Regions from separate parts of the Homo sapiens genome. Here region 1 is linked to region 2. A link means that fine-mapping ties the variant in region 2 to the expression of a gene that starts in the linked region. Tissue or cell type: thyroid. Region 2 holds a variant in brackets; the other region holds the start of a gene. All regions are shown on one strand. Distances are from middle to middle. Region 1 holds the start of HAAO (3-hydroxyanthranilate 3,4-dioxygenase). Region 2 overlaps MTA3 (metastasis associated 1 family member 3).

Region 1 (2,904 bases), 35 kb after region 2:
GACGCGAGACCTCAGGGGGAGCGAAGGGAGGACTGAGAAGGAGCGACTGCAGATGGGGATGAAGTGTTGGAAGGAGGCAAAGATGATGCTACATCTTTAATTGGGGGTGGGCAACAACAGTGATAGAAGAGATCTTTGGGGAGATATTGACTGTTGGCCATGTGGTATTGCATGGTAACCAAGAGTGTGCGTGGACTCTGGAGTCGAACTGCTCCGTGGGTTGAGTCTGGAGCCTATCGCACAGGCGCTCCGTGACACTAGAAAAGTTACTTATGAAAATCCCCCCTCACGGTGCTACTGTGAGAATGAGATGAGATGATGTAAAAACACTTGGCATAGTCCTGGGCCTGCTGTTTGCCTTGAGGTGCCACCCTACTGACCATGTCCTGTGGACACAGCAAAAATGGGGAATGTAAACCTTGATCTAGCTGGCATGTGGGGCCCCGCCATGGAACTGGGGGGATGAGGGAGGTGACCATACCACAGGGGAGGGCCTGAGAGGTCTGCCTGAGAAAGATGGCAGCTGGATGGCCAACCCTGTTGGGTGCTGCAGGCAGAGGCTACTGGCAGAGGTGGCCTAGGGAGGGTCTGGTGTGGTGTGTGTGTGTGTGTGTTCGTGCACACCTGCATAGAGGGGCCCTGAAAAAAGCAAGACATCAAGATCTTCCCAAAGGAGCGGATTCTCTGCCTCCCCCTTTGCCTGTGGCTTCTGGGACAGGGTTGGGGTGTATGATTTGGCTGCCCCCAGGCCTACATTCTAGTGCATTTCTGCCTTGAAAACCACCCTCCCCACACTTTTGAGTTTTCCCAAAATGCACAGTGTCACTTGGGGTTGGAGAATTGTTTCTCAGCCCTGGAAGGAGAGGTGCACCCTGTCATGTCATCTCCTACAGCCTGAGAACCAGCTCAGCCTTCTTCAGAAGTCAAGGCCACAGTCACAAGAAAGAGGAACAGACCGATGTGGTGGAACCGGAACAGCCTGTCTCCATCTTCCCCCAAGAACCAAGAGATTAAAGCGGTCCTTCTGCAAGCTTCTGGGTCCAGGAACTCGGAGCTGGAAGGTGAGGGCGCAGATGGAGGAGGGGGAGGAGGCGAGGGCAGGGGGCGGCCATGGGGGTGCTGGACTCACATGAGCTTGTTGCAGACCGGGGGCTGGAAGGAGCCCCGGTTCTCCTTCACCCAGGCCCTCACTCCCAGGCGGCGCTCCATGACTGTCCCGGGCGCCTCCTCGCAGCGCTGTCCTCCCGCCGTCGGAGGCCCGCAGCTCCGCCCAGCCGCCTTTTTAACCAGAATCCCAAGCTCACGAGGCGGAGCAAACCCCCGCGACCCCGTGGTGGGGGCTTGGGGCCCGCGGACTTTGCCCCCTGGTGGACTTTGGTCTGAGCCCGCCGCCCTCCGCGCCACTCCAGGCCCTGGCGAGCGCGGCGGCGGCAGCGCTGGGGAACGGCGTCCCGCGCCCTCTGCTTCTCCGCGGGGCAGGGGCTCGGTCCCCGCCACCGTCTCCGGGGCGCCCCACACACTGGCGCCTGCGGTGGGGCCTGCTCCCGGCGGAGGACAAAGAATCCAGACCCTTCCTGGACGCTTGTCCCCAGACGTTCCTTCCCTCTACGCCCCGAGGGGAATCCCAGGGAAGGTTCCCAGAAATACTACAGTGAGGAGATCGCGGGTTGGAAGTCCCAGCACCTGAGAACACGGTGCTGGCGCTGGGCTCAAGATTTGGCTTTCCCATCTGGAAAAGGGGAATGACTGCCCCGCCACTCAGGGCTGCGGCGCTCACCCAGCGGGAAGCCGCACGGCGGTCCCCGCAGGTCCCGATTCAAGGTGAGCCCCAGACCTGCTGCGTGCGGCCGGCAGACTCCGCCGCGGGCTCGGCGAGGGGAGCGGTGCAGGCGCCGAGCTGCGGAGCCCGGGCTCAGGGCAGGACCGCGAGCCCTCCCCACCTGAGGCCCAGCCGAGCGGCCGCTGTCCGCGCAGTGTCGCAGTGGACCCCGAGCCCCGTGCTGAACTCCTTAGGCGTCTTAGGAACATACTCAGTTCGCACGCAGCTATGGGAGGAATTTGGCAGATGTGGACACCGGCCTCAGTGTCCTAGCCCTCGGGAATCTCGGGGTGTTAATGATGACAGCCCCGTGTGAGAGACTCTAACAGTTATCCTGGGGGTGAGGGGCTGGGGCGCTGGGCCTGGGCGTGCATGTGTGAGGAAAGAGAAATCTGCGCGGGTGTGGAAGATGGAGAAGCCTGTCTTTCTGCAGGACTCAGAACTTTCTTAGGAAGTTTGGAGGGAGTGGGAGCTGACGGGTAGGGGAGGAGGAAAATGGCTCAGGCCCCTGACACCGGAATCCAGACTATAGAGTTTAAGAAACTAAACGCCTCTAAATCCTGCCCTCACAGCCCGCCTGGCCTGGGCTGGTTTTCTCAGCATTCCAGACATAAAGACTCCTCTAGTACAACTCAAAATCAAAACCCAGACGACAGGAAGCCGAATTCCCCACTGAGACCCTCCCGTTTCCTCTCTGACGCTCTTTTTTTTTTTTTCATTTTTCTCTCTCCTTTTTTTTAGTTATTTATCTAGCACAGTTTTAGCTGAGCACTTCTAGTGCAAAACTAGAATATCGTTTTGCACCCAAGTAACTCACACCACCTTCTTTATTTTTCTCATCTACAAGTAATCAGAGGAGACGTAAACAATGACACATGAAGCACTGAGGATCTGAGATGTGTTAAGTTTGCTTTGAGTGTTAGTTAAATGGAGGGATGGGTGAGTGGGTGGATGAAGGCATCAATGAATTCACACAAAAAGGAGAAAAAATTGATTTCAGCCCAACAGATGTTCCGTTACCATAGTGCAAAGGAAAGAATGATAGGTACTCTGTATTTTAACTGATGTGATCAAATAATGTGAAT
Region 2 (2,904 bases):
AAAGCTGAGAGGCAAAACAGGGGAGTGAGGGGCAACCCAGAGGTGGGGAACAACAACAGCAAGCCGCCCCCATCCTGAGACTGGCTGGGCACCAGGGGAGGACGCGTCACCAGAGCCTGGGGCCAAGGCCACTGGGGGACCTGCCACACTGTGGACCTGTCTGGTGGGGGCTGGAGCCTCGAGAAGCCATGATTCTTGTCAGAAACATTTCCCCAGGCAGAGAGAGGGGGCCCCAGCCTCTCCCCTCCTCTTGGCCTCCAGAGTCCTGCAGGTGCCTCACAGTAGTGAAACCCAGTTGGAAGCAGCTGCCCTGGGAGCCTGGGACAGGCGACCCACCGGGTCAGTCCCCTGCCACTCAGAGCAGAGCAGGGGGCTGAGGGCAAGCAGGTGGGGCTGTGCGTGGCCTCAGTGCACTCGGTGTCATGTCTGAGCCTGGTGTTTATGCCCCACTGCTGTCCTAAGTCCCTGGCGAGGGGAGGTGGAGGAGCTGCCCCGTGGGTGTTTGGAGATTCTGTTTTACTCTGCCTAGAGAGGAAACGGCTTTGGGGAGGGAGGGGGAAGCCTTTATTCTTTACTGTTGTCCCTGTTTTCCTTTGGGGGAATTTACTCAGTTAGCAGCCCCTCCTCACCATTCCCCCCAGGAAGGCCATGTCCCAGTTTTCTGTCCACCCCTCCTGTTCCTCTGCACTATGTCTCTGATTTTCCCTGCCAGGGAAGCTAACCCAGAGCACGCACCTGTGCTCATGAGTGTTTCCGCAGGATAATTCGTTCTGAGCATGATACCACAGTGTGGATTGTCTGTCTGTAAGGAGATGCCATCTACTAACCAATTTGTATTGTGTTTCCAATAAATTCCTGGAAATTTTGCCTGGTTTTATGCTGTTCTTTACTAGGATGATGGCTCAGGTGTAAGACTGTGCACGCACCCCTAGGCCCAGCCTCAGGTGGTCCTTGTTTCAGAACCTTGAGCTCCGAGGGCCCCGGGGAGGTAATAGGCCAGGCCAGTTGGTCTGCTGTGCCCCAGCTGCACTGAGACTCTCAGAGGCCTTTCCCCAGGGTCTGCATCTTCTTCTGCTGTCTCATAAGCCACATCCTGGGGACATGGAAGTTTCACGAGGCGAGGTCACCCCAGTAGGAGGCCTTTGACCCTGTGCCCCCAGGCCTGGAGGTATGAGGTGTAATAGGCAGCCTTTTTCCCGTGAACTACCCTGCAGTGTGACTTGTGCCCTGCTGTGGCCAGTGCTGGGTTGTGGGGATGGGTGCTGGGGT[A/G]TTCAGGTGGTGCACTGAGGAAGGCTGCTGTGCCCCAACATGGGGTTTGCTGTTTGGCTGGCTGTTTGTGTGGACTCTGTCTCAGCTGCTGTGCCAAGGTCATTATAGGGGAAAGTGAAGCTTGGCTCCCTTGGGACCCCTCCAGCCTGTGTTTGTGAAGTACACATGTTTGTGACTCTTGTTTGCTGGGCTTTCTGAAAGATTTTCTTAAAAGGAGTCACTAAGCTTATTTTTTTCTTTTCCTTTTTCTCAGACATGGTCTTGCTCTGTCACCCAGACTGGAGTGCAATGGCGCGATCTCGACTCACTGCAACCTCCACCTTCTGGGTTTAAGCGATTCTCGTGTCTCAGCCTCCCAAGTAGCTGGGGCTATAGGCGCACGCCACCATGCCCGGCTAATTTTTGTATTTTTAGTGGAGACGGGGTTTCACCATGTTGGCCAGGCTGGTCTCGAACTCCTGACCTCAGGTGATTTGCCCTCCTTGGCCTCCCAAAGTGCTGGGATTACAGGCATGAGCCACTGCACCCAGCCTTCTTAGTGTTTTTATTGTTTGTTTTTTTGTTTTTTGTTTTAAATTAAGGCTTTTAATGCGAACTCAAATATCACCTCCCTCTTTCTGGAAGCTCCTCTGTAGCTTAGAGTGTTGCATGCCATACCTCTCAAGGGGGCCGACCTTAAGCTCCATACCAGGACTGGGTTTTTATCATCGGACTTCCTAGGAGGTTTCTTCTGCCCCTCCCTGGGTAGGTTTTACCCTCTGTTTATTCTGATTCTGCTCCTGGGTGCAGAGATTGCTGGAGGAACCACACCACCTACTCACGACCCCACAGCTTAACTCATCAGGGTGCTTAACTCACCAGGCCCCTTTGAGCCACTTGCTTAGTGACCCTTTTCTATGTTCTTCTTTGGGAGCTTGATTTTCTTATTTCCAGAACCAGCTGTTCCAATCCTTTGCCACTTTTTAAGTCCTTATCCCCTGAGAGCTGCGGCTTCTAAGAATCCCTTCAGCTTTATTCCCCTTGTCCCAAGACCTACTGAAATAGTGCCATTGCTCCAGCTCAAAGAGGCATCCTTCTATCTTCTGGGGACAGACCCTCCTGCCACCCATGAGCTGCATTCATCCTTCCACTCCCTTAGGGCCTTGCAATAGTGTCTTGACTCAGGCCAGACTGCCACTTACTAGCTGGATGACCTTGGGCAAATTATTCAACCTCTGTGTGCCTCAGTGTTTCCATCTGTAAAATGGGATAATAATGGAATCTCCCTCATCAGGACTAAAAAAATTAATATGTGTAAAATGCTTAGAATAAGGTCTGGTACATTCCAGTCCCCATCATCATTCCCCTCCTCCCCAGTATTTTTCTTTTCTCCCTTCTCCTCCTGTATTTAAAAATCTCTTCATCTAATCCACCAAATAACAGAACAGTCAAACCACCAAAACATCTGTCCTCTGCTTAGTTTCATCTAAAGCTATTATCTTCTCTCCTTTTACTGGCACATTTGTTGAAAGGGGAAGAGTTGTCTCCATTACTTCAAATCTCATTAATTCCTCAACCCATTATAGCACTTTATGGCTTCCATTCTGCCCCCACCCCCATCCACTCACTGAAATTGCTGTCAATAAAGTCACATTT

What was found. PIP is the estimated chance that this variant, and not a neighbour inherited with it, causes the effect.
Region 1: HAAO starts here. The variant in region 2 is fine-mapped to the expression of HAAO in thyroid (GTEx, PIP 0.98).

What each region holds. Positions count from the first base shown.
Region 1 is chr2:42,791,328-42,794,231 of GRCh38, forward strand. HAAO (3-hydroxyanthranilate 3,4-dioxygenase) reads right to left here and starts at 1,256. Exons shown (of 10, transcript NM_012205.3): 1 at 1,130-1,256. The coding sequence starts at 1,209. RefSeq lists silencers at 1,103-1,542, 1,723-1,822, 1,903-1,992.
Region 2 is chr2:42,756,081-42,758,984 of GRCh38, forward strand. MTA3 (metastasis associated 1 family member 3) reads left to right here. Exons shown (of 17, transcript NM_001330442.2): 17 at 1-866. Among named protein-coding and RNA genes, the nearest start is that of OXER1, 6.6 kb to the right of the region's middle. RefSeq lists enhancers at 1-534, 535-1,106. The variant A/G (reference allele first, on the strand shown) is at 1,270.